Linked DNA regions of Homo sapiens. The protein of the gene in region 1 purifies or fractionates together with the protein of each later gene. This does not show direct contact. Each region holds a gene or a part of one and is shown on either strand. Other genes may lie near its edges. The genes, in order: CTRL and ANKRD40.

Region 1 (16,482 bases):
CCCCCATACCTGGCCAGGAAGGTTCCCTTGGGAAAAGCCATCCCCACTTCACCAAAACACGAAGTGTTCAACAGATTAAGTCTCCCTCCTTCACTGCAGGAGCCAATGCCCTCAGGCTGGATTCCTGACTAGTCACTGGGAGGTGGCATGGTTTGGGCCACTGGATGGAGGCAGTGGACCCTCAGTTGGTCACTGTGGCTGGGGACCTGCCCTTGGTTGGAGACCTCTGGCAGGAAGGCAGAGGAAGCTCTCTCCATGTGAGGCCAGAGGAAGCTCTGAGTGGAGAAGAGCAGCAGCCCCATCTTGTGTCACCTCTGTGCCACCACTGGGCTCCCCAGAGCCCTGTCCTCTAGGTTTCCCTTTGTCACTGCTGCCCTGGTTGCATACACCCCAGAAAGCAGCAACTTCCCTGTAGTGGCAGGAGCAGACCCACCCGCCACGCTGCTGCATTCAGCCGTTCCTGCTGACCACCCATAGCATCACGTCACCCTGGGTCACAGCTGCCTTTCATCACTTTTTCCACCTCCAGCCCTTGAGGCCTGGCCAACAAAGAGCAGGGTGTGGTGGCTTGCACTCAGAGCCATCCCTGGTGCGTCAGCCATCCCCTCCCTCTCCTGTCTTTTCATTGTCTGTCTCCACCTGGAGAGCACTGCCTTTCACAGGCTCTGTCGCTTCTGGGCCCTCAAGTTCCTCTGGGAGCTGCTGGACTGTATCTCTCCCACATTCTGACCTCTTTATTTATTTATTATTATTTTTTAATAGAGACAAGGTCTTGTTGTAGAGGAACAAGAGTTGGAGTGCAGTAGTGTGATTATAGTTCATTGTAACCTTAAACTCCCGGGCCCAAACCATCTTCCTGCCTCAGCCTTCCGAGTAGCTGGGATTACAGGTGTGGGCCACCACACCGGGCTAATTTTTTAGGTTTCTTGTAGAGATAGGGTCTATGTTGCCTAGCCTGGTCTTGAACTCCTGGCCTCAAGTGATCCTCCTGCCTCGGCCTCCCAAAGTGCTGAGATTAAAGGCGTGAGCCACTGTGCCCAGCCCTGACCTCTTTAGATCCACTCATAGCATCCCATGCTCATCCTCCTCCCACACCTACTGAGGTGGAGGCTGGCTCTCAATTGCATGGCATAGCTGATGGTGACCTGGTCCAGCCATCCTCACTGGCTGTGCCTCTCCAAGCTCACCTTCCCTAGTCAGTCCTCCCATCACACAAGGTTACCCTTCTCCATCGTGCCTGACGTCCCTCGGTAGATGTGTGGTGCCCAGAGAGCTCTGCTCCCTTGTGGCCCAGCCAGCTTGGAGCAGAAGGCTTAGTCACATTCATCTCTTCATTCTTCCTCCATCCCATATTGACCTACCACTGGCCCTAAGCCTGGGGTTCCAGGGACAGAGACTGCAGTGTGGATGAGATGGTTACAGTCACTGAGCCTCCAAACTGCCTCAGAAATTAGGATGGGAGGAAGTTAAAAAAAAAAAAAAAGGCTGGGCACGGTGGCTCACACCTGTAATCTCAGCCCTTTGGGAGGCCAAGGTGGGTGGCATCTGAGATCAGGAGTTTGAGACCGACCTGACCAACATGGTGAAACCTCATCTCTACTAAAAATACAAAATTAGCTGGGCATTGTGGTGCATGCCTGTAATCCCAGCTACTTGGGAGGCTGAGGCAGGAGAATTGCTTGAACCCAGGAGGTAGAGTTTGCAGTGAGATGGTTCCATTGCACTCCAGCCTGGGCAACAAGAGCAAAACTCCGTCTCAAAAAAAGAAAAAAAAAATAATGCCAGGTGCTGTGGCTCACGCCTGTATCCCAGCACTTTGGGAGGCCGAGGCGGGCAGATCTTGAGGTCAGGAGATCAAGACTATCCTGGCTAACACGGTGAAACACCGTCTCTACTAAAAATACAAAAAATTAACCAGGCATGGTGGCATGCACCTGTAGTCCCATCTACTTGGGAGGCCGAGGCAGGAGAATCGGTTGAACCTGGGAGGCGGAGTTGCAGTTAGCTGAGATTGCACATCGCGCCACTGCACTCCAGCCTGGGTGACAGAGTGAGACTCTGTCTCTCTTAAAAAAAAAAACAAAAACAAAAATCAAAAAACCAGGCTGGGCCCTGGGAACCACTTGGCCTCAGCGGAACCCTTGATGAGTGTAGATAAAAGAGATCACGCTGCAGCAGGCTTCTAAATCTGGAACCTTCCAGGGCTACTCCAGGACATTGTTAAAAGCAGACATCGCTATGTTGGTGGCACAGGCCTATTGCAAAGCGAGCAAATAGCATCCTTCTCGATCTTGAGTTGTGTCCTGTCTCTCTCCTCTCCTTCCCCTCCACTCTGGCTCTGGGCAGGGACAGGTGGGGGCACACGATTTCATTTTGTTATCCATTTCAAGTTTCAGAACACAGCTTTACTAACCTTTAAGTTGTCACACCTTTTCTCATTTTAATCTTTATTCTCTGCTTTTTTTTTTTTAATTCTCTACTTGTTTTTAAAACTGCATTATCTTCCCTCTATTTCTCTCCTCAGGCTCTCTCCCCCCACACCCTTCCCTTTTCTGTTGCTTGCCCCTCACCCGCCCTCTGCCGAGTCCCAGGGTGGTAGATTCTGTCTGGTCTGGAAGCCCAGGCACCAGGATGATGGGTTTTTGACCACAGGAGGGGATGCTGGCTCTGCTGCCACACAGTGTCTAATTCTGCTGATGCTCTTCGTCGTGGGCAGCATGACAGGGTGCCGTTCTTGTTGTCATGCTGCTTTCCTGAGTAAACTCAAAGCTCTGTTTCCAGAATTTCCTCTGTGCCCTTTTCTCTGCTCTCATTCAGGCCCACGTAAGTACAGAAAGGAGGCCTTTGAAGGTGGGAATAGTGGGTCTGAAAATACATCTTGAAATAGAGCTGAGGGAAGAACTGAGTCATGGTAGCAAAGCCCAGGCTTCTTCCTCCCTTCCCATCCCTTCTCTAGAAGCACTGTGGTGGGGCCACCTCCTCTGTCAGCCAGCCTGCCCCAGAATCATCATTGGTTAGATAAGGAACCCAGGGCTCAAGAGGTCAGCTTAAATGCTAAACTCTGCGCTTCACATGTGGCCACGTGAAGGAAAAGGTGGAGAAAAAGGAATCCAGGAGTTTATAAACTGGAAGGGACTTAGAGTTCATGACATTCAGCCCCTTCCTCGTGTTAAAAGTGAAGGCGGTGTGATTTCTCTAAGGCCGACAGAGAAGGTAGAACTAGAACTCAGGTTGCTGGGCTTGCAATCTAACCCTTTAACGTATCCCAGATGCCACTCAGAAGACACACCAAGGGGCCTTTCTCTCCCAGCCTCACTTGCCAGTAGGCAGCCCTGCCTGCCAGAGGAAGTCTAGGGCCGCCCTGTAAGCTGTGTTTGCTGCCAGAAAGAAGCAGCTTCCTCCTCTGTCTGCAGCCTCTGCTAGAGAGCTGGCGCTGTTCTTTGTTTCATTAGCCCTTAGGCTCCAGGTGAGACCGCTGGCAGTGGCTTGGGTAGTGTTCATGCCAGGCCCTTGTGCCAGACATTAGAGCTAGAGCAAACGAAAAGGGTTGGTGCGGGGGGTCCTCAGGCGGGAGCGGAAAGCCCTTCCTGCTGTGCTGCCTCTCCCTCTCCAGGGGGAGTAGGACTCCACTGCCTAGGAGTGGCTTTGGCCCAGCATGGGTAGGGGGATGAGGAAGGCTAGTTGGTAAGGAGGTGCTCACGGAAGAGGTCGCTTCCCATACCCATTATTGGCATCTTTGCTGTTCCAACATCAGGAGCAGGTACCCTAACTGCAAGGGGAAAAGGACTCTTTTGAGGGCCATGGACTCAGGAGGAAGGCAGCCAGCTTGATGGTCAGAATCAGAGCAGAGGTGATGCCCTCCTCCTACAGCCCCTGCTTGTCTTCCTCTTGAAGCAGGACCCAGCCCTCACTCACGCAGCAGTGTCTCGAAGTGCTGGGATTAGAGGTGTGAGCCACTGACTTGCCCAGAGACTGTGGAAAGGAGAGAGTGGAGGCTGTCACCCTGGGTATGGAAGCTGTTCTCTGATCCCAGAGCAAGGGAAGACCTGAGAGTCTGGGCGTAGAGCCAGCTGACATCTTAGTGTTTCCCTCTGTGCCTCGTGCTCCACGTCGGCCCAGAAGCAGGTGGAAGCCTCAGAGACTGCCCAGGTGGGTCTTGGCACCTGTGCCATCTGTCAGCCAACTGAGGCCATGTGTGTCCCTGGTATGGCTCAAATAAGTATACTGAGGCACGAGTTCAGTTCTTCACCTAGAACAAACAGAGTTGTGGAGACTGAAGAGCATGACTATTCATCATTTTCCCTTTTCTCCTGCTTAGAATGCTTCCCAGCCAGTCAGCCCTTGGCTGACACACATACTTACGTGGCTCCAGGGGAAGCAGGTGGGTTGGGCTGCTGGCGTTGAGTGCTTTCTTAGGAGGTGCTGAGTTGATGTGAGGCCTGAAGCCTGGCTGTGGGCGAGTGTGGAAAGCCTTACTTTTCTAAGCCCTGTGGGAGGCCTCAGCAGGGCTTCCAGAGGCTGCTATTCTGAAGGTCACCCTAAGCCCCTGCCTCACTGTCAGCTGGATGAGGACCACCTTCTTGTGTTCAGCCTGACTTTCCTCTGTGTACAAGGGTTAGGCTGGGGACCAGTTCAGGACGACTTGAGTCACTTTGGCTTGGGGGACCCACCTGGCCTAGCTGCTCACAGCTCTTCAAAGATGGGAAGAGCTGGGACCTGCCAGAGAGGCCAGGCCAGCCCTCAGACAAATGAGTCCATCTGCATTCTGCGCACAGCCACATGCCCACAGTAATTGGTGAGGCGAGAATCTTGGGGAGCAGCGGGGAGAGGGATCAATCTGGCTCGCTTTGGCACTAACAGGCCGGCCGCTCCATGAGCAGCAGGGGTTGATGCCTGCTGGTGTGAGCCTGTGCCACTCTGAAGATGGAGACACTTAAGACCATAGGGCTGGTCTGGGGAGAGGCCCCTCCAAGACTGCACTGGTGACTGGTTTGGAGTTTCAGGTCCACGGTTTCGCTGGGTGTGGATGTGAAGTGGTGAAACCTCCAGTCCATCCATGTTCAGGCTCCTGGCCTCTGTAGGGGAGTTGCCCCTCTTTTGTCTTGGCTGGACCAAGGGGCAGGGGCAGAATCCATTTCCCAGCCCTGTTGGGACACCCTGGGCTGTCAGCCCTGTCTTGGGGCTGTTCCAGCAACAGGCCAGACTGAGCTGCAGCCTGCTTCCTAGTGAGTCCTCCTCTTCCTGGAGACTGTAGAAGGCCAGCAGGCAGCAGAGGTGTCCCCTGACCCACTCTGTTCAGCTGTGTGTGTGCTGTCTCCATCAAGCTTCTTTCTGTCTCTCCGGTGGGTGATGGGGGCTACAGTGAATGTCTGTGGTCTGGACTGGCTGCCCCCAGTAGTGGTTCCTTGTGTTCAGGAGGCAACCATGGAGCTTTCTTTTTTAAAAAAAAATTTATTAATTTTTTTTTTTCTTTGAGGCGGAGTCTTACCATCTTTCCCAGGGTGATCTTGAACTCTTGGGCTCAAGCAGTCCTCCTGCCTCAGACTCCCAGAGTGTTGGGATTATAGGCGGAAGCCACTGCTCCTGGCTTTTGGGGTTTTCTTGAGCTGTGATCCAAAAGCTATTGTGGCAGCTGTCTAGTCCAGTTGCCCTGCATATTGGCCTTAATACCTCAATATGAATATTTTTTTTTTTTTTTTGAGACGGAGTCTCGCTCTGTTGCCAGGCTGGAGTGCAGTGGTGCGATCTTGGCTCACTGCAACCTCCGCCTCTCAGGTTCAAGCAATTCTCCTGCCTCAGCTTCCTGAGTAGCTGGGACTACAGGCACGCCACCACGCCCGACTAATTTTTGTATTTTTAGTAGAGACGGGGTTTCACCATGTTGGCCAGGATGGTCTTGATCTCATGACCTTGTGATCCACCTGCCTCAGCCTCCCAAAGTGCTGGGATTACAGGCATGAGCCACCACGCCTGGCCCTCAATATGAATCTTGAACTACACAAGCCCCCAGGAGACTTACCTGCCTGTCGGGGAGGGCTGTTGCTCTCTGCGCCCACCCACAGCCCTTGGATAGTAAGGCATCTATGGGCCTTCGTTGGCTGCATGCTCCTGGACCCTGACTTTCCTCCTCCTGGGGGCCAGCATCTCCCCAGGAGTCACTGGGTGCTGCTGGCCCACTGATGAGGATGACCCTGTTAGGTGTGTTTGGGAATATGGTTCCCCTGTTGCTCCCACTTCAGCTCAGTAAAACTTGGAATAACCTTCCAAAGAGTGGGTGAAGACAGCAGCTGCAGGTAGCCCCAGGCCTTCCTCAGGACGGTGGAAGCGTGTTCTCCCTGCCTCATCCCTCTGTGGCAGTGGGGAAGGGGGTAGGGAAAGAGTTGGAGGTCAGGCGAGCCAGACTGGGAGTAGCAGTAGTCAGTGAGTGTGTGTGTCTGCTAGATGGCTGTGCACCTGCCCTGAAGGTGGTCTCTCAGATCCTCCTGAACCCCCTGGAGGGCATGTTCAGGGGTTCCTCAAGGTGAAGGGTACCATGGGTGGTGAAGGGTACCATGGGTGGAACAGGCAGACCTCACCTGGCAGGAAGGAAAGTGAGGGGATCGTTAGCATCCCTGTTGAGTCATCTGCAGCAGGCTCAGGAAAGGTCCTAGCTGCCTATCCTTGGGGGAGCCTCAGAGCCCGTGCCAGAAGTGTTCCTAGGAGATGCAGGGACGCAAGGACTCACCTGGCTGAGCCCCAAGGCCTGGAAGCAGCTCCAGGAAAGGGCACCCATCCGGCAGCACCGTGGGTTGTTTACTGTCTGAGCCTGTGCCTACTGAGTGCTTCCTGTATGCGCAGCACCAGGCACGGGCTCATCCAGCTCAGCATGATCTCATGGGAATACTAAACGAACATGAAATTGCAGTCTCACGTTACAGCTGGAATAATTGCTGGAAGCACTGGGGGCTAAGAGGGAGTCTGAGCAAGTGTCCTTTACCCTGAGAACCTGAGGATCCAGTCAGGTGAAGACAGCCGTACAACCTGAGGCCCTGAGACAGACAGCTGCTGGGTTCGGGGCTGAGATGAGGCAGCCCGGGGTGCATGTGGCAGAGTGGGCTTTATGGAGTTCCTCCCAGGGGACAGAATGTACTAAAATGAGGCTGGCGCACAGCACTGCCAGGAGCCCTTTGTGGCTTAGAGAAGTAATGCGGGCCAGAGGGTGCCACTGAGAAGGGTCCTGGTTCCTTCCTGGTCCCGGGATCGCCTGCCCTCAGCCGACTGGGAAATCTAGTTGCCTTGAATTGTTTCCTTTCCTCCCCATGCCGGGAGGCAGAGGCAGGGAGCAGTGGTCTTCTGCCACTGCTTCGGCAGTTGGAGAGAGGTTGGATCTTCTCTGTAAGGACTAGGAAGTTCCCCTTTAAGTAGCCTGATCCTGGTCATCCAGAGATTGGAGCTTCAATCTGACTTAGGATGTGGTGGGAAAGTTTGAATCATTCTCTAACAGTCCCCTGAGTTATGATACTCCTGGGACAAGTTCGGGGGGGTCTTGGCAGAGGCCATCTCCCTGAGCCAGGCTTTGGGTCCAGTGCACCATAGAATTTGCTCCCTGGGAGAGTGCACAGGTCCTTTCCTTCCTTGCCAGACTCCATCACCTGGAGAGCAGCCCTTGTTCAGCCTGAGCCAGCGTTGGGCGGGGAGGCCCCAAGTGCTACATGAGAGGAGGGGCAGCACCTCTCTCTGGAAAGGGGAGGGTTGCTGAGTAGTGGCCTCATCCAGATGGGGTGGGCAGTGTCAGATGCTCTCACTCTAATGCTTGTCCTTGGTCTCTAGCCCTGGCCTAGTGTGTCCAACCTGGCCAAGGACTTCATTGACCGCCTGCTGACAGTGGACCCTGGAGCCCGTATGACTGCACTGCAGGCCCTGAGGCACCCGTGGGTGGTGAGCATGGCTGCCTCTTCATCCATGAAGAACCTGCACCGCTCCATATCCCAGAACCTCCTTAAACGTGCCTCCTCGCGCTGCCAGAGCACCAAATCTGCCCAGTCCACGCGTTCCAGCCGCTCCACACGCTCCAATAAGTCACGCCGTGTGCGGGAACGGGAGCTGCGGGAGCTCAACCTGCGCTACCAGCAGCAATACAATGGCTGAGCCGCCTGGCTGTGCACACATGCAGCACGACCCAGCCTGGCCACACACTGTGGTGCCATCTGGGTCCGATGCCCTCTCTGGAGATAGGCCTATGTGGCCCACAGTAGGTGAAGAATGTCTGGCTCCAGCCCTTTCTCTGTGCCTTCAGCAGCCCCTGTCCTCACCATGGGCCTGGGCCAGGTGTGACAGAGTAGAGGTAGCACAGGGGGCTGTGACTCCCCCTGAACTGGGAGCCTGGCCTGGCACTGATACCCCTCTTGGTGGGCAGCTGCTCTGGTGGAGTTGGGAAGGGATAGGACCTGGCCTTCACTGTCTCCCTTGCCCTTTGACTTTTCCCCAATCAAAGGGAACTGCAGTGCTGGGTGGAGTGTCCTGTGGCCTCAGGACCCTTTGGGACAGTTACTTCTGGGACCCCCTTTCCTCCACAGAGCCCTTCTCCCTGGTTTCACACATTCCCATGCATCCTGATCCTTAAGATTATGCTCCAGTGGGAGACCCTGGTAGGCACAAAGCTTGTGCCTTGACTGGACCCGTAGCCCCTGGCTAGGTCGAAACAGCCCTCCACCTCCCAGCCAAGATCTGTCTTCCTTCATGGTGCCTCCAGGGAGCCTTCCTGGTCCCAGGACCTCTGGTGGAGGGCCATGGCGTGGACCTTCACCCTTCTGGACTGTGTGGCCATGCTGGTCATCGGCTTGCCCAGGCTCCAGCCTCTCCAGATTCTGAGGGGTCTCAGCCCACCGCCCTTGGTGCCTTCTTTGTAGAGCCCACCGCTACCTCCCTCTCCCCGTTGGATGTCCATTCCATTCCCCAGGTGCCTCCTTCCCAACTGGGGGTGGTTAAAGGGAGCCCCACTGCTGCTACCTGGGGAATGGGGCACCTGGGGGCCAAGGCAGAGGGAAGGGGGTCCTCCCGATTAGGGTCGAGTGTCAGCCTGGGTTCTATCCTTTGGTGCAGCCCCATTGCCTTTTCCCTTCAGGCTCTGTTGCTCCCTCCTCTGCAGCTGCACGAAGGCGCCATCTGGTGTCTGCATGGGTGTTGGCAGCCTGGGAGTGATCACTGCACGCCCATCGTGCACACCTGCCCATCGTGCACACCCACCCATGGTGCACACCTGTAGTCCTCCATGAGGACATGGGAAGGTAGGAGTTGCCGCCCTGGGGGAGGGTCCCGGGCTGCTCACCTCTCCCCTTCTGCTGAGCTTCTGCGCACCCCTCCCTGGAACTTAGCCATACTGTGTGACCTGCCTCTGAAACCAGGGTGCCAGGGGCACTGCCTTCTCACAGCTGGCCTTGCCCCGTCCACCCTGTGCTGCTTCCCTTCACAGCATTAACCTTCCAGTCTGGGTCCCACTGAGCCTCAAGCTGGAAGGAGCCCCTGCGGGAGGTGGGTGGGGTTGGGTGGCTGCTTTCCCAGAGGCCTGAGCCAGAACCATCCCCATTTCTTTTGTGGTATCTCCCCCTACCACAAACCAGGCTGGAACCCAAGCCCCTTCCTCCACAGCTGCCTTCAGTGGGTAGAATGGGGCCAGGGCCCAGCTTTGGCCTTAGCTTGACGGCAGGGCCCCTGCCATTGCAGGAGGGTTTGGTTCCCACTCAGCTTCTGCCGGTCGGCAGCCTGGGCCAGGCCCTTTTCCTGCATGTGCCACCTCCAGTGGGAAACAAAACTAAAGAGACCACTCTGTGCCAAGTCGACTATGCCTTAGACACATCCTCCTACCGTCCCCAATGCCCCCTGGGCAGGAGGCAGTGGAGAACCAAGCCCCATGGCCTCAGAATTTCCCCCCAGTTCCCCAAGTGTCTCTGGGGACCTGAAGCCCTGGGGCTTACGTTCTCTCTTGCCCAGGGTGGGCCTGGTCCTGAGGGCAGGACAGGGGGTTTGGAGATGTGGGCCTTTGATAGACCCACTTGGGCCTTCATGCCATGGCCTGTGGATGGAGAATGTGCAGTTATTTATTATGCGTATTCAGTTTGTAAACGTATCCTCTGTATTCAGTAAACAGGCTGCCTCTCCAGGGAGGGCTGCCATTCATTCCAACAGTTCTGGCTTCTTGCTGTAGGACCAAGGGGTTGCCCTGGAGGAGGGGTGGGGGCCCCGGCCTCGGCATGGCTACTCTAGGAAGAGCCACTGCTACTCAAGGAGTCACTCAGCCCCTTCTGTGCCAGAAGTCCAAGTAGGGAGTCGGACCCTCAACAGCCTCTTCTTTCTCCTGAGCCAGGAAGACAGACATGAATGCATGATGGGACAGGGCCTGGGTCTTTAATGGGTTGAGCTGGGGAGGGCCTGTGGTGAGCTCAGTTGTAGGCTATGACCTGGTTGATCCAGGTGCTGAACTTGCTAACTCGAGTATACACAGCAGGTGCGCGCACATTGCAGTTTTTGGTGCCCCAGGAGACAATACCAATAAGCACCCATGTGTTTCCCTTCTGGCAGACAAGAGGGCCTCCGGAGTCACCCTGAGAGGGAAGAGGGAGGGAGAATTGAGTAGGGGGGGTTGGGGAGGTATACCACAGGACAGCGCAGAGGAGCGGGTGCTGGGGCTTACCTGGCACGAGGAGGCACCTGCGCCACCTGCACAGATCATGGAGTCAGTGATACTTGAGCCCCAGTACTGCCGGCACTGATTCACAGTGACCAGGGGCAAAGCCACCTGCTGCAGATGTGCTGGTGTCACATTGCCTGTGGGCCAGGAGGGGTGGTCACATGGGGCCCAGAACACTGGTCCCCACCCCAGTCCTCCCACCCTGAGCTTTGGCCTGAGTCCCTACCCACGCCACTGAGGCGACCCCAGCCGGTGGTGACACACGTGAGGCCTTCAGTCAGAGCCTCGTTTGAGGATGCCAGGCAAACTGGCGAGATGCGTGTTGTGTACTGGGCTGGCGAGGCGAGCTTCAGCAGCGTCACGTCATTGTTCATGGTGGTAGAGTTCCAGCTAGGGTGTGTAATGGCCTGTGGGGTCAGAAACAGTCCATGTTCTGATGGGTGCTGAGCAGGGTAGGCCAGGGCATGTCCTGAATTCCTCGTTCCCAGCACCCACCCACCTGCACTGCCCACTTTTCCTCCGTGTCTGCAGCCCAGGCACTCACCCGAGAGACGGACAGAACCTGCAAGGGCTCTGCGTTTGATGATCGGTCATACTCGCCCAGGACAACAAAATGGCGGCCAGGGCTGCAAGGGGGTGGGATTAGGCAGCTGCAGGGAGGCCAGCGCGAGAGGGGGACAGCCAGGGGAGGAGGCAGGAAGAGGCGAGGGGCGGGGCAGGTGGAATGCAGGCACTCACCTGACATTGCAGTGGGCAGCAGTGACCACCCAGGACTGGCTGATGAGAGAACCACCGCAGAAGTGGAAGCCGCTGCTGTCCTGTGGTCAGGGCTCAGAGGTCAGAGTGGGGGTGGGCTGCTGAGGCTGCCCCTAGGCATGACGTACCCAGGACCCTGCCCACCCCTCTGGTGGTGTACCTGCAGGGACACCTGCCAGGGCCAGGAGCCCAACACTGCATTCTCCCCGTTGACAATCCTCTGGCTGAAGCTCAGTGCCGGTTTGATGGCAGGAATGCCGCAGCCTGGCCATTGGGCTAATGAGGACCTGCTTCCCATGCCTCAGCCCATCTTTCCCCACCTCCTTTTGGGTGCCCCAGGCTGTGCACCCCAGAGAGGTCTGTCGAGAGGGTACAGCACTACCCCTTCCCCAACAGGGTACATGCAAGCACCTTCGGGCCCCACAGCTATCTTGGTTATCCCTATCCACCCAGTCCCCCAGCCCTGCTGTTCTCCTACATCTGTCTCCAGCCTAGTCCCCGCTGTTCCCCATCTCTACCCCTGGTCTCTCTGCCCCCTCCCGACCTGAACAGTTCATACCCTTCATGCAGCCAGAAGGTTCTTTCTAAAAGACATGGACAGGTCTTCCTGTCTCAGCTTCCTAAACCCTCCCGGGCTCCAGGGCCTGGCTCAATCTCTGGTCCTATTTGTGAGACCACCCCACCTCTTGCCCCCTCCCAGCCCTGCAGGCCTGTTCCCTGCTCCACTGCCCTGGCATATCCTGTTTCTTTTGCCCACTCTGTCCACCTTCGTCCCTTCCAGCCAGCCTAGCTCCTTCCCTGGGCTGTTGCTGGGAGCTGAGTTGCTCCCAGGGCTGAATCAGGGCTGGTCCTGGCCCACTCACCCCAGGAGGAGCCGAGGAGAACCAGGCTTAGGGTCAGGCTGAGCAGCAACATCGTGGCAGATGTGAGGTTGGGAGCTGGGTCTGGCTTTATGGGTCTTCTCGTCCTTGAGCTAAAGCTCCAGGCCTGAGGCCAGGCCAGCTGTGTAGACTCAGCCCCCTCCCACGCTCCAGGCAAGACAGGCCCTTTAGGCCAAGGTCCCCTGACCGAGACCTAGACTTATCAGACAGAGCCCAGGTGTGAGACTCACCTCTGCCACCTCCCAAAGCCTGGCCTCTAATTGGCTCCCAGAACCACCTCCCATTCCAAATGTTGAGCCCTCGGTACTGAGGACAGATGGTTAAATTAGGTCTATAGTGACAACCTGGTGGCTGGGATCACAGGAGTCACCCAGGGCTAACAAAGGCACCAGGCTTTCAGAGAAGGCCGCTCAGCGTCCAGGGTGTTCTGACTGGTGGATGGAATGCTCACTGCGGTCAACTTTGCTGTGAAGGGCCAGGGGCTGTGAGGTTCTGGCAGGCTGGGAGTCCTAACACATCATCGCAGTGGTTCCTCGTCCATTTGGAACAGGAGTCACAGGTCTGCTCAGAGATGGTGACTCTCCCACCAGCACGTGGTTGAGTTGTACACAAACTCGCATTTGTCTGGCGCTGAAGCCTCCGCTCTTAACAATGAGATGATACTTATGAAGGGCCTGGCATTTAGGAGGGCAAAGTGTGAGCTCTTGGTGCCTGGCCGACCGTGGACTGAGGCTGCAGGTGGAGAGTGACAGACATCAAATCTCTGCCACCCTCTTTAGGCCTTGGGGCTCCCATGGGCAAGCCCCTGGTGTCTGTAGCCCATTTGTTACTGAGCTGCAGACCAAGCTTGAAGGGAGAAGACACCCTGTGTGCAAAGTTCCAACAGGTGCATTGGCTGGCGGCCTTCTGGGAGTGTGAGGGCTTTAACTGATTCAAGAACAGATCAGGGCTGGGTGTGGTGGCTCACACCTGTAATCCCAAAACTTTGGGAGGCAGACGTAGGAGGCTTGATTCCAGGAGTTCGAGACCAGCCTGAGCAACATCATGAAACCCTGTCTCTACAAAAAAAATTTTTTTAAATTAAGAAATGAGCTGGGTATGATGGTACACACCTGTAGTCCCAGCAACTCAGAAGGCTGAGGCAGGAGGGATCACTTGAGCCCTTAAGTTCAAGGCTGCAGTGAGCCATGAGTGCACCACTGCATTCCGGCCTGGGCGATGGAGCTAGACCCCATCTCAAAGAAACAGCATCAGCCAAAAAATGAGATGAATTGGCTGGGCACGGTGGCTCACGCCTGTAATCCCAGCACTTTGGGAGGCCGACGCGGGCGGATCATGAGGTCAGGAGATCAAGACCATCCTGGCTAACAGGTTCAGTAGAAACCTCGTCTCTACTAAAAATACAAAAAAAAAAAAAATTAGCCGGGCGTGGTGGCGGGCACCTGTAGTCCCAGCTACTCGGGAGGCTGAGGCAGGAGAATGGCGTGAACCTGGGAGGCGGAGCTTCCAGTGAGCTGAGATTGCGCCACTGCACTCCAGAGCCTGGGTGACAGAGCGAGACTCCGTCTCAAAAAAAAAAAAAAAAAAAAGGAGCGATGAATTAATGGATAGAGGGATGAATAGATGATAAAACAAATATAACAAAATATTTGCACTCCAGAGCCTGGGTGACAGAGCGAGACGCCGTCTCAAAAAAAAAAAAAAAAAAAAAAAAAGGAGCGATGAATTAATGGATAGAGGGATGAATAGATGATAAAACAAATATAACAAAATACTGTCAGGTCTGTGGTGACCTGACAGTATAAGGGTATTCAATATACAACTCTTTCTACTTTTCTGTTACATTTACAAATGTTCATTAATAGAATGTTGGGGTGCAGGGAGCACACTCAGCGGCCTGGGGATGTGCAGCCCGGCATAGACCCTCCCTGGGCCCTGGGTAGACTCTCCCTGACATTTCTGAAGCTCCAGCGGAGTTCAGCCGTTCTCGCTGAGGACAGGATGCTCTTGCTGGCACCCAGCAGCCAGGCCTGAGACTCAGCAGGGGCCCAGCAAAGGTTTGTTGGAGAAACGTGTCATCTCTCCCCATGTGAGTCCTGTGACCCTTATTAGCCTGGAAAACTTGGAGTCACAAGCCCAGCATGTGCAGACAGAAGACGAGCTTCACGTGAGCAGTGCAGGCATGCCTCGTCATCTAAGGGGTGTCACAGGTAAAGATGTTGCGAGGTTGAGGAGTGCTTGGTGAGAACTTGCCTTGGAGTCAGGGAGCGGCTCCTCTTGTCAGCACTTTAGCCCTCAGTGGGGCCTGTGGGGGCCTGATTGAAAGGTATGAGCTTTGTCCTGGGCCACTGAGGAGCCATGGAAAGTCTCTAGGAGGGGGTAGTACATGGGGTATTTCATAATTTACAAGTCTCCAGTGGACTAGAGGGCAAGAGCAAGACAGTGGAGTGGTGGGGGAGCCTTCAAGTGTGGAGTCAGAAGGAAGGTTTGGGTGGAGACCAAGCCTGCAATGCTGGCCAGGGCTGGGGTTCTGGAGTTGTAGGTGCCTGAGGTTATGGGTGAAGGGCATCTCTTAGGCCAGACACTAGAGCTATGGTAGGTAATGGCCCCTGCAGGGACGCCTTAGCTACAGAGCCCTGCTGGCTGCCTGCCCACCCCATTCCACTCAAGAATGACACAGCCATCTGTTTAACTGTATTTTCTGGGTTTATTCCCCCTTGTTCCAAGCTCTAAGCCTCAGCTTACTCCACCTCCATAGCCTGCACAGTTTCCTCCACTAGCTCCAGGGTTAGTGGCTTCACTGTCTGGGTCAGGACAGCTGTGGTTCCAGGCACAAAGTGGTAGCGGCCAGACCTGGGAGGGAGGAGGGACAGCCTCTGAACATGGGCCTGTCATGTGGCCCATCCCCTTTTTGCAGCCCCCTATCTCCCCTGCTATAGCCCCACACATCCCTGTGGTCCCCGATCTCCAGCTCTCACCTCTTCACGGGCTCTGTGGGTGAGCTCAGTGTCCGCAGCAGCTTGGCGCCAGTCTTTGTGATCACACATGCGTCCACATTGCCCCCGGAGCCCAGGTCACCCAAGATCCCGGCGGTGACGGCTTCCACCAGCAGCCCCTGAGCAGCCTCCAGCTGCGGTGATGGGTGTGTGAGACCTAACGGGCTCTCTCTGCTGTTAACTTAGGCTACAGCCTGGGGACTTGCCTGTCCACTTACCCAATCTGGTCTTGCCCTCCAAACCCCCACTGTGTTTCTCCCTCTGAGCCTTAGCCACCTCTGAGGCAACATCACCTGCTTCCATCCCACCCCAAACAAAATCTAGGCTCCAGACGTTGATATAAGTAGGACCCTACTGGTCCTTCTCTCCGCCCTCGGCTCCTAAAGATCCTCTGTGAGCTTCGACTTCTCCCAGCCGTGCAGGCTTTGGTATTGGACGGTGTTATGTCGGGACCGCACTTCTCTGCCCTTACTCCACTCACCCTTCAGTGGTCACCTCCTCCGACAAGCCTTAGCCACCCGCACTGGGCCAGGGTCCTGTGCTCCCCCAGCTCCCGGGTGCACATCCCACCAGCGACCACAAAGTCGGGGACAGAGGCCGCTCACCGTCATGTTCGGCTGGAACCGGTCTTCTAGCACCGCCAGGGCCGCGTCCTGACCAGAGCCTGAAGGCAGGAGAAGCATCTGAAGTCAACCGCTGCGACGCCGTTTGGAGTGAGGCCAAGGTCACAGGGGCAGAGTTCGAGGAGAAGGGACAGAAGCGCTCACCCAGGGCTGTGAAGGGCAGACGGCTGTAGGAGCCATGGGGATGCACACCGTAGAGCTGCGGTCCAGTCAGGTCTACGCCGCCCACGATCAGCGATGCACCCACGTGGCCCTGGTACCTGCTCGAGGATGGGCGGGGTCGGCCACAAGCTGGGGCCTAGGCCCCACCTCTCTATGCCCAGCTCCTAGGTGCTATCCCCGCCCCTTCCTGTGGGCTGGCGCCCGATGACTGACATCGCCTTTTCCTGTAGCCCAGGTTCTCTTGGGCCGGCCTCTTCCGGTCACCTGGCCCGTCGCGGTCCCGCCCTTCTTTCTGTCCCGCCTTCCAATGGCCCCAACCCCGTAACTACCCCTGCCGGGGTCCTGTTAGCCCTGCCCCCGCACCTGAAGAGCGTCTGGCGCAGGATGCGAGTGACCGT
Region 2 (10,501 bases), on another chromosome or scaffold:
CCATCCTGGCTAACACGGTGAAACCCCATCTCTACTAAAAATACAAAAAATTAGCCGGGCGTGGTGGCGGGCACCTGTAGTCCCAGCTACTCGGGAGGCTGAGGCAGGAGAATGGCGTGAACCCAGGAGGCAGAGCTTGAAGTGAGCCAAGATGGCACCTGGCACCACTGCACTCCAGCCTGGGCGAGAGTGCGAGACTCTGTCTCAAAAAAAAAAAAAAAAAAAAGAACCCTATCCTATCTGTGCTGCAAAGCAAGTTCAATAAATGTTAGCTATTTATGCTTCATCTCATTAAGGGCTCACAATACTCTTCTGGAACAAGTAGAAAATGAAGCATCTCAGGCAAAGTCCCATAGCTAGGCAGGAATGGAGGAGAACCTGCAGGAAAGACCAGGCTCCTTCTACACAACACCGCCTCCCAGTGCCAAAATGGTAATTCACAGCTTTGAACCAGAGGAATGCTGAGAAAAGGTTACATACACAACAGCAAGTTTGCAAAGACCTGTAAAAAAAAAAAAAAACAGAACAAAAAGGTAGTATCCACTGTTTCCTGGCCTTCTGGACAGCTGTCCAGGCTGTTTTCTTTAGGGAAATTAGGTAGAAAAAAATTTTTTTTTGAGACTGGGATCTCACTATGTTGCCCAGGCTGGTCTCAAACTTCTGGACTCCAGTGATCCTCCTGCCTTGGCCTCCCAAAGTGCTGGGATTACAGGCGTGAGCCACCAGGTCCTACCAGGAAGATAGACTTTTTTTTTTTTTTTTTTTGAGACAGAGTCTCGCTCTGCCACCAGCCTGGAGTGCAGTGGTGTGATCTTGGCTCATTTCAACCTCCAACTCCCTGGTTCAAGTGATTCTCCTGCTGCAGCATCCCAAGTAGCTGGGATGACAGGCACACACCGCTACCCCTGGCTAATTTTTGTATCTTTAGTAGAGACAGGGTTTCACCATGTTGGCCAGAATGGTCTCGAACTCCTGACATCGTGATCTGCCCACCTTGGCCTCCCAAAGTGCTGAGATTACAGGCGTCAGCCACCGCGCCAGGTCCAGGTAGGTAGACTTTTGAGGCAGTCTGGAAACCATGGTTCTGGTGCTATCATATTAATAGTTATGTGGCCTAGGGCAAGTTATTCTCTGTGGTTGAGCCTCTCTCCATTGTCCCTTTCAGTTCCAAAATGGATGATTCCACTTAAAAAAACAAAATGTAAACTCACTTTTTTTTTTTTTTGAGGTAGAGTCTTGCTCTGTCGCCCAGGCTGGAGTGCAGTGGTGCAATCTTGGCTTACTGCAACCTCCGCCTCCCAGGTTCAAGTGATTCTCCTGCCTCAGCCTCCCAAGTAGCTGAGACTACAGGCATGCACCACCACGCCCAGCTAATTTTTGTATTTTTAGTAGAGACGGGGTTTCATCATGTTGGCCAGGATGGTCTTGATCTCCTGACCTCGTGATCCGCCCACCTCAGCCTCCCAAAGTGCTACTCACTTTAACTCTAAGCTAGCAAAATAGTCTGGCTAAGCATTACCTGAATCAAAATTTTAAATTTTAAATGCAGAGAGCGGAATAATGCCACATTCAGTAACTTTCTGTTTTGACCACCAGCAACATCTTAAGATGAGACTCCTTATTTAATTGGGAAGAATTCAATCTGCAGGCAGACATCTAAAGTCTTGGGTGACATTCTGTATTTGAAATTGTAATAAGAAAACTGGCCAGGAACGGTAGGCTCACATCTGTAATCCCAGCACTTTTGGAGGCTGAGGCGGGTGGATCACTTGAGGCCAGGAGTTTGAGACCAACCTGGCCCCATCTCTACCAAAAATACCAAAAAAAAAAAAAAAAAAAATTAGCCGGGTGTGGGGGCGCGTGCCTGTATTCCCAGCTATTTGGGAGGCTGTGGCAGGAGGATCACCTGAGCCGGGGAGGTAGAAGTTGCAGTGAGCCGAGACTATGCCACTGCACTCCACCCTGGGCGACAGGGCAAGACCCTGTCTCAAAAAAAAAAAAAAAAAAAAAAAAAAAAAGAAAGAAAATAATCGATAGGATAAACAAATGAGTTTTCCCTCAAACAGGCAACTACAGGCAGCAGCAGCAAATCGGTTGCAGTGAAACAACAGAGAAGCAGAATGGTGATGCAAATGTGTTTTTTTTTCCTGGTCTTGGCTAAGGAAATCGTGCTAGTTTATAAAATTCATATTTGCTCAGTTGCTTATGCTTTTAGCTCTGCAAGATGCGTTCTCCAGAAGCACCTACGGCAAATTAACTCAACACTCGAATTGGGGTGAGCTCCAACGCATAGTCGCTGAGAATCACTGCCTCCAGCACCGCTCTGACCAAGTGAGCCGGGAGCGCGGGGGAAGGGGGTAGGGCACCAGAGTCCCAGTGGGCGCTGCCCCGAGTGGACCACGTGGGCCGGGATTTGGGCAGGACGCGCTCCCGACCGCACGAGGCATGGGGGCCAGGGCTGGCCTCAAGAGAGCACAATCTCGGAGGCCCGAGGTGGCAGGCCTCGCCGTAGCCAGGCGTCCCGCGCTGGGCCCAGGTCGCGACTGACTGCCCCACGCCTTCCGACCGGCTGCCCTGACCCTAGGCCTCCCCCGCTCCCCACTTACCAGCCGTTGACCTCATTTTGGGAGTTCACATCCACCCCGCTCTCCACCAGTTTCTGCACCTCCCGAATGTCCCCTAAGGCCGCGGCCTCCCGCAGCCTCTCCTGCTGCTCCTTCTGCTCTAGGAGGGCGTTCATCTTCCCACAGCCCCAGGCCCCCGCCCAGGCCCGCCTGCCCCGCCCCGCCCGGGGCCTGTCAGCGCCGCCGCCGTCGCCGCGGCCCGCTCCCGGCCATGGGGAGGGAGCGCGGAACTCGCCCGCCCTGCTCGCGCCGCTGCCCGCGCCCGCCCCGGGACTTCCGCTCCCTCCCGCGGGCCGCCCCTGCTGCTCCCGGCCCGCAGGCCCAGGCCTCCTCCCGGGCCGCGCCTCCCGAAGGCCGGCTCCGGGGGACCCTGTTCAGTGTGACAACGCTGACCCAGATATTTTCCGTTCCGACCCGGGGCTCCGGCGCCCGGGCTGGCTGTTTATGTAACTACTGCACAATATTATATGCCATGATTCATTGACTATTTTTAGACTTCCCCACCCCGCAGTTTCAAGGGAGGAGGACAAGACACATGAAAAGAGAAAAAAGCATAGCTGAGGGCCAGAAAAGCCTTATCCTCTGGTGCAGGCTGTTTACCAGGCATCCAAAATAATTGGTGGGTTCTTTTTATTGGGATTTGGGGTTTTTTTGTTATTTTCCCCCAGTTTGGTTGGCTCCTTTTCCTTATCTGAGCCAATTCGTGCCCAGCAGGATGGGGAAATGGGCTGAAAACGATCCTACTATAATACGCCCATTATTACAGAGATAGATTAGACTCTTCTTCTTTTTGACAGTGCTTGGGGACAATTCAGTTAGAATATTTATTTCAATTGTTGTTGTTTTACATCTCATTTTAGACAGGATTTCTTCTAACCTGGCTTTCAGGAAAAATATTTATATTGTGCTCACAGTTTATGAACTGTAATTACTGCTTACAGATTGTAATTAGTTACTCTTCATGAAGGCCATATAAGGAGAAAAGAAAGGAAAAACACCAAAGAGGCTTTGGAGGTGTCCTGGTCCTGATTCCAAGTGCTCTGGGAAGAGCTGTGGTGTACATGTAAACAGCATTTTGCTTCACTTCTTGCCCGATCTATCTAATGAGGCTCAGAGCCTCAGTTGGCACTGTTTTATACCCAGTGGGAGAAAAAGGAAATATTGTTTTGTTGAGCCCAGGTGCCCTGAAGAGATCCTCCGATGTGGCACAGGATGGAACTTTACAGATGGGGTCAAGATTAAGGAAATAGCCCTGGGGAGGAAGGGAGGAAGGCCTGAACAAGGAGAGATGAAATAGGAAGGGATAAATTTAGGCATGGAGTTTTCATTTCCGTCTCTTGGGGCTGCTGGGATCTGCACAGCAAGCATTTTTCTTGCTACAGTTTAAGAAAAACCAATGTCTGTTTGTTTAGTATGATACAGTAATTCACACAGTACACAGTGCACACCAGGTGGTGCTGAATATAAACTGACTACACACTTAAATTGACCCCCATGGCAAATTGTAACCCTGCTTGAGCTTACATTTTCATTTGTTCCCCCAATTTAAATTTTAATTCTCACATCCAGCATGATACTCTATCTGAAACTGATGTGTATGGCACTGGATTTGAGTCCTTCAACACAATTTCAGTGACATGGGAGTAGGTAGTGGCTTGTTGTTTTTGTTTGCTTGTTTTTGAGACAGAGTCTCACTCTGTTGCCCAGGCTGGTGTTCGGTGGGGCGATCTCTGAGCTCCTTGCAACCTCTAAGTCCAGGTTCAGGCAATTCTCCTGCCTCAGCCTCCCGAGCAGCTGGGATTACAGGCCTGTGCCACCATGCTCGGCTAATTTTTGTATTTTTAGTAGACATGGGGTTTCACCATGTTGGCCAGTCTGGTCTCCAGCTCCTGACCTCATGTGATCTGCCAGCCTCAGCCTCCCAAAGTGCTGGAATTACAAGCATGAGCCACCGCGCCTGGCCTGTTTTTGTTTTTTTGTTGTTGTTGTTTTTTGTTTTTAATGCAGTTAAAAAAAATTGTTCGTGACTGCACCCCAAAGTCTATGAGTTCTTTTTTTTTTTTTTTTTTTTTTGAGATGGAGGAGTTTCGCTCTCATTGCCCAGGCTGGAGTGCAACAGCGCGATCTCGGCTCACCACAATCTCCACCTCCCAGGTTCAAGCGATTCTCCTGCCTCAGCCTCCTGAGTAGCTGGGATTACAGGCATGTTCCACCATGCCTGGCTAATTTTTTGTATTTTTAGTAGAGACGGAGTTTCTCCATGTTGCTCAGGCTGGTCTCAAACTCCCGACCTCAGGTGATCCGCCCGCCTCAGCTTCCCAAAGTGCTGGAATTACAGGCATGAGCCACCGCGCCCGGCCCCCAAAGTCTATGAGTTCTCTTTATGAGAGTTTGTCAAATGTCCCTTCCTTAAAAGGATTATAGCATGTACCCTACATAACTGCTGTATCCGTGAATATTAGTAGATCTTCTTAAACTCAACCTCTACTTACTCTGATTTCAGTCTTCTGTTTATTATCTTCAGATTAAAAAAAACAAAATTTTATCCACAAACAAAACTTCTGATCTTGGATATAACTGAATGTAACCTGCTGGCTGTTCTATTACTACTTCCATTTATCTCTACTCTGTCTTGTCTCTAGGGAACTACCTAACTCACTGAACTGTATTAAGCATGTGCTGTTTGCCAGGCACTGTTCTAGTCACTGAGGATGCTGCTGCAAATGAATCAGAGTCCTTGACTTTGAAGAACAGTTTATCAGGGGAGACAAGGCGAACAATAGAATGTGCTATGCATTACAATAGAAACAATGTGGCATAGTGGTAGTGAGTGTGGAGACAGACGCCAGACTGCCTGGGTTTGTATGCCAGCTTTGCCACTCATATAATCTTGAATGAGTTACTCAACTTTCCTGTGCCTCAAATTCTGCACCTGCGAAACAGGAATAATAGTAGCACCCACCTTGCAGGATTGTTCTATGGATTGAATGAATGGATATGTGCAAAGCCTAGACATCTTAAACATTCATTGGATCATAGGTGGGTTACAACAAGGTTTACGTTAGGAAAACTTAACCTGGCAGAATGGGAGGGCAGTGGTGGTCAAGAAACAAGGATAATGTTCGGGTTTCTGGATGATTAGATGGTGGTGTGATTTATTGAGATTTGGGACAAAGGATGAAGAGAAGGTTTGAGGTTTGGTCATGAATTCACTTTTGAATCTGTTGACTTGAACTTTCTGAGACCTTTTAATTACTACTACTCTTTACTATCTGCTACTATCAACTCATTGCCAGGTGCTGCAGGAAGTGCTGTACATGGATTATCTCATTTAATCCTCACAACAACTCCTCTGTAAAACAGGACCATCATTATTATCTGAGGCTCAGGGAGGTAATTAACTTGCCCCAGTGCTGGCCAGGCACGGTGGCTCATGCCTGTAATCACAGCACTTTGGGAGGCTGAGGCGGGCAGATCACCTGAGGTCAGGAGTTTGAGACCAGCGTAGCCAACATGGCGAAACCCCGTCTCTACTAAAAATACAAAAATTAGATGGGCGTGGCGGCAGGTGCTGGAGGCAGAGGTTGCAGTGAGTCAAGATCTCGCCATTGCACTCCAGCCTGGGCAACAGAGTGAGACTCTGTCTCAAAAATAAATAAATAAATAAATAAACAAACTTGCCCAATGCTATACATCGTAGTTTGTGATGGAGCAAGGCTTTGAACTCAAGTTCAACTTCTGAGCCTGTGCTTTCTTTTCTGATTTTCATTTAAATGGATATGTTCAGTAAACAGTTATGTGAATGGGTATTGCATTTAGGAAGGAGATCTGGGCTGGTGATTTGTATTTTGGCAGTCAGCAAAGGGTGCTAGCTGAAGTCATGGGAATAGAAGAGATAGCCCCAAGGGAGTCTGTGAGTGCTGAGAGAAGACTCCTGCCAGGCGCGGTGGCTCATGCCTGTAATGCCAGCATTTTGGGAGGCGGAGGAGGGTGGATCACCTGAGGTCAGAGTTCCAGACCAGCCTGGCCAACAGAGCGAAACCCTGTCTCTACTAAAAATACAAAAAGTAGCCGGGTGTGGTGGAGCGCACCTGTATTCCCAGCTACTCAGGAGGCTGAGGCAGGGGAATCACTTGAACCTGGGAGGTGGAGGTTGCAGTGAGGCGAAATCATGCCACTGCACTCCAGCCTAGGCAACAGAGTAAGACTCTGTCTCAAAAAAAAAAAAAAAAAAAAAGACTGCTGAAGACAGCCAGGAATGGTGGTTTGTTCCTGTTAATCCCAGCTACTCAGGATGCTGAGACAGGAGGATTCCCTTGAGCCCAGGAGTTCCAGACTAGCCTGGACAACACAGTGAAACCCTGACAGTAAGACCCTGTCTTAAAATAAGTAAGTAAATAAATAATTTTTAAAAAGAAGACAGCCAAAGACTGAAGAATACAGATGGTTCCCAACTTATGATGGTTGCAGTTAGGATTCTTTTACTTTACAACAGTGCAAAAGTGATACACAAAAGTGCAAAAATAAGTAGAAACCTTACTTTGTGTAACCAAACAACTATTCTGTTTCTCATTTTCAGTACAGTATTTAATAAATTACGTGAGATATTCAACACTTTATTATAAAATAGGCTTTGTGTTAGATGATTTTACCCAACTGTAGGCTAATTAAAGTATTCTCAGCACATTTAAGGCTAGGCTAAGTTATGATGTTTGGTAGGTATATTAGTCTATTTTCACACTGCTATCAGGAACTACCTAAGGCTGGGCACAGTGGCTCATGCCTATAATCCCAGCACTTTGGGAGGCCAAAGACAGGTGGATGATCACTTGAGGCCAGGAGTTGGAGACCAGCCTGGCCAACATGGAGAAACCCTGTCTCTACTAAAAAATACAAAAATTAGGTGGGTGTGATGGCGCAAGCCCATAATCCCAGCTACTCGGGAGGCTGAGGCACAAGAATCACTTGAACCTGGGAGGAAGGGGCTGTAGTGAGCCTAGATTGTGCCACTGCACTCCAGCCTGGGCGACAGAGCAAGACTTTGTTTAAAAAAAAAAAAAAGAAAAAAGAACTACCGGAGACTGGGTAATTTATAAAGTAAAGAGGTTTAATTGGCTCACAGTTCCACATGGCTGGGGAGGCCTCAGGAAACTTACAATTATGGGAAGGCGAAGCAAGCGCCTCCTTCACAGGGTGGCAGGAGAGAGAGCGAGAGAGCGAAGGGGAAGAGCCACACTTTTAAACCATCAGATGTCCTGAGAACTCACTCCCTATCACGAGAACAGCATGGGGGAACCGCCGCCATTATCCAATCACCTCCCACCAGCTTCCTCCCTGGACACATAGGGATTACAATTTTAGATGAGATTTGGGTGGAGACACAGAGCCAAACTATCCATAGGCTAGGTGCATTAAATGCATTTTCAACCTAATGGACGTATTGGGATCTAACCCCTTTGTAAGTTGAGGAGCATCTGTAGTCAACATTTTAATGACGGACAGAAGAGAAGAAATTCTCAAATGAGAGCAGAGGAGCAGCTATTAATAGACTAGCAGGAGGAAAAGCAAAGGAGTGGGAGGGTTTGGAGACAAGGGAGTGATCCACAGGGTCAAATGCTGCAGAAAGGGCAAGAAAGAAAGGGCTGAAACACATGAAATGGGTTTAACCATCACAAGCTTGCTGGTGCCATTGAAGAGGAAAGGTGCAGTGAGGTGGTACAGGTAGCCACCAGACTTTCTTAGTCCATTTGGGATGCTATAACAAAATACCACAACCTGGGTGGCTTATAAGCAACTGAAATTTTTTTCTCACAATTCTGGAAGCTGAAATTCCAAGATCATGGTACCAGCATGGTCAGGTTCTGTCGAGGGCCCTCTTCTGGGTTGCAGACTGCCAGCTTCTCATTTTTTCCTCACATGGCATGGCAGAAGGGGCAAAGGAGCTCTCTCGGGCCTCATTTATGAATGGCACTAATACCATTCCTGAGGTCTCTGCCTTCATGACCTAATCACACCTGAAAGGTCCTGCCTTTTTTTTTTTTTTTTTTTTTTGAGACAGGGTCTTGTTCTGTCACCCAGGCTGGCACCTGACCTAAAAAACAAACAAAAACAAACAAACAACAACAACAACAACAAAAAACCTTTCATTCTAAGGGAAGAAATTGCTATTTGCAATATCGTGTGACAAACCCAAAAATATGCAAGGATGCTTCAGGTAAAATGATGGCACAAAGAAGGTGATCAGTGTGTAGCAGGTGGAGGGCCAGGGTCCAGGGTGGCGTTGTGGAGCTGCTGAAACTGGGGCTGTAAGCTGAAAGATGAGTAGGGGCTCGTATCTGTAACCCCGGCTGCTCAGGAGGCTGAGGCAGGAGTGAGACCGTCTCTGAAAAAAGGATGAGTAGGTGTTGCTTGCTGCTGGAGTGGAAGAGCTTTCCATGCCTGGAGCAACGTAGATGGTGAAATGCAGGAATCAAGGGTCTTCCAAGTACTGGAAGCAGTAGCAGATGAAGTTGGAGAAGGGGGTCAGAGCACAGACCACCTTGTGGTGTTTGAACCTTAGAGTGGAGATGATGGGGAGCCATCGCCTCTAAGGTTGGAGGCGTTTTGTTTGTTGGTTTGTTTGTTTGTTTTTTGAGACCCAGGCTGGAATGCATGGTGCCATCTTGGCTCACTGCAGCCTCTGCCTCCTGGGCCTCCAGCAATCCTCCCACCTCAGCCTCCTGAGTAGCTGGGAATAGAGGCGCGTGCCACCATGCCCAGCTACTTTTTGTATTTGCAGTAGAGACAGGGTTTCGCCACATCACCAAGGCTGGTCTCAAGCTCTGGAGCTCAAGCAATCTACCAGCCTCGACCTCCCAAAGTGCTGAGGTGTGAGCCACTGCACCTGGCCAGTTGGAGCCTTTCGAGCAGGGATGAGACACATCTAGATTTACATTTAGAAAGGTGACTGATGGCTGGGCGTGGTGGCTCATGGCTGTAATACCTGCACTTTGGGAGGCTGAGGCGGGCGGATTGCCTGAGCTCAGGAGTTTGAGACCAGCCTGGGCAACATGGTGAAACCCTGTCTCCACTAAAGTACAAAAAAAAAAAAAACAAAAAAAACAGCTGGGCATGGCGGCGTGCATCTGTAGTCCCAGCTACTCAGGAGGCTGAGGCAGGACAATTGTTTGAACCTGGAAGGTAGAGGTTACAGTGAGCCGAGATCGTGCCACTGCACTCCAGCCTATGCAACAGAGTGAGACTCCGTCTCAAAAAAAAAGAAAGGTGACTGAGGCAGCAAGATAGATGGAGGATGGGGTCAAGGGGCCCGCACTGGAGGCTGGGAGGCTGGGAAGCAGTGAGAAGACCTGTAGTAACTGCAGCTTCCTTTCTATATTAGCTTGCTAGGGCTATCATAACAAAAATACCACAGACTAGATGCTTAAACAAATGAGATTTTTATTTTCTGGAGGCTATGAGTTTACGATCTGGGTGTTGGCAGGTTTGGTTTCTCTGGAGGCCTCTGTCTTTGGCTTGTAAATGGCCACCTTCTTACCATGTCCTCACGTGGCTTTTTCTCTGTGCAAGTGCATCCTTGGTGCCTCTTTGTGTATCCAAATTTCCTCGTATAAGGACGCCAGTATGATAGGATTATGGCCCAACCTAACAGCATTGTTTTAACTTCATCATCATCTTCAAATGCACGATCTCCCAATACAGTCACATTCTGTGGTTCCAGGAATTAGGCCTCAACATATGAGTTTGGAGGTGACAGGAACACAGTTCAGCCCATAACATTTTCTTCTTTTTTGAGATGGAGTCTCACTCTGTCACCCAGGACGGAGTGCAATGGCATGGTCTTAGCTCACTGCACTCTCTGCCTCCTGGGTTCAAGCAAT

What was found.
Region 2: the proteins of CTRL (region 1) and ANKRD40 purify together in Homo sapiens (affinity purification with mass spectrometry; 3 studies listed by BioGRID and IntAct, with this or other methods). This does not show direct contact.

Annotation. Positions count from the first base shown.
Region 1 is NC_000016.10:67,919,516-67,935,997, forward strand, and holds CTRL (chymotrypsin-like protease CTRL-1 precursor), read right to left. Parts: upstream 12,348-16,482; 5' UTR 12,338-12,347; coding exon 12,286-12,337; intron 11,687-12,285; coding exon 11,583-11,686; intron 11,485-11,582; coding exon 11,405-11,484; intron 11,293-11,404; coding exon 11,211-11,292; intron 11,074-11,210; coding exon 10,893-11,073; intron 10,804-10,892; coding exon 10,670-10,803; intron 10,581-10,669; coding exon 10,419-10,580; 3' UTR 10,059-10,418; downstream 1-10,058. Other genes in the region: PSKH1 (serine/threonine-protein kinase H1), read left to right, coding at 7,810-8,127; PSMB10 (proteasome subunit beta type-10), read right to left, coding at 15,045-15,156, 15,282-15,433, 15,905-15,963, 16,067-16,182, 16,448-16,482.
Region 2 is NC_000017.11:50,704,915-50,715,415, forward strand, and holds the start of ANKRD40 (ankyrin repeat domain-containing protein 40), read right to left. Parts: upstream 3,001-10,501; 5' UTR 2,741-3,000; coding exon 2,607-2,740; intron 1-2,606.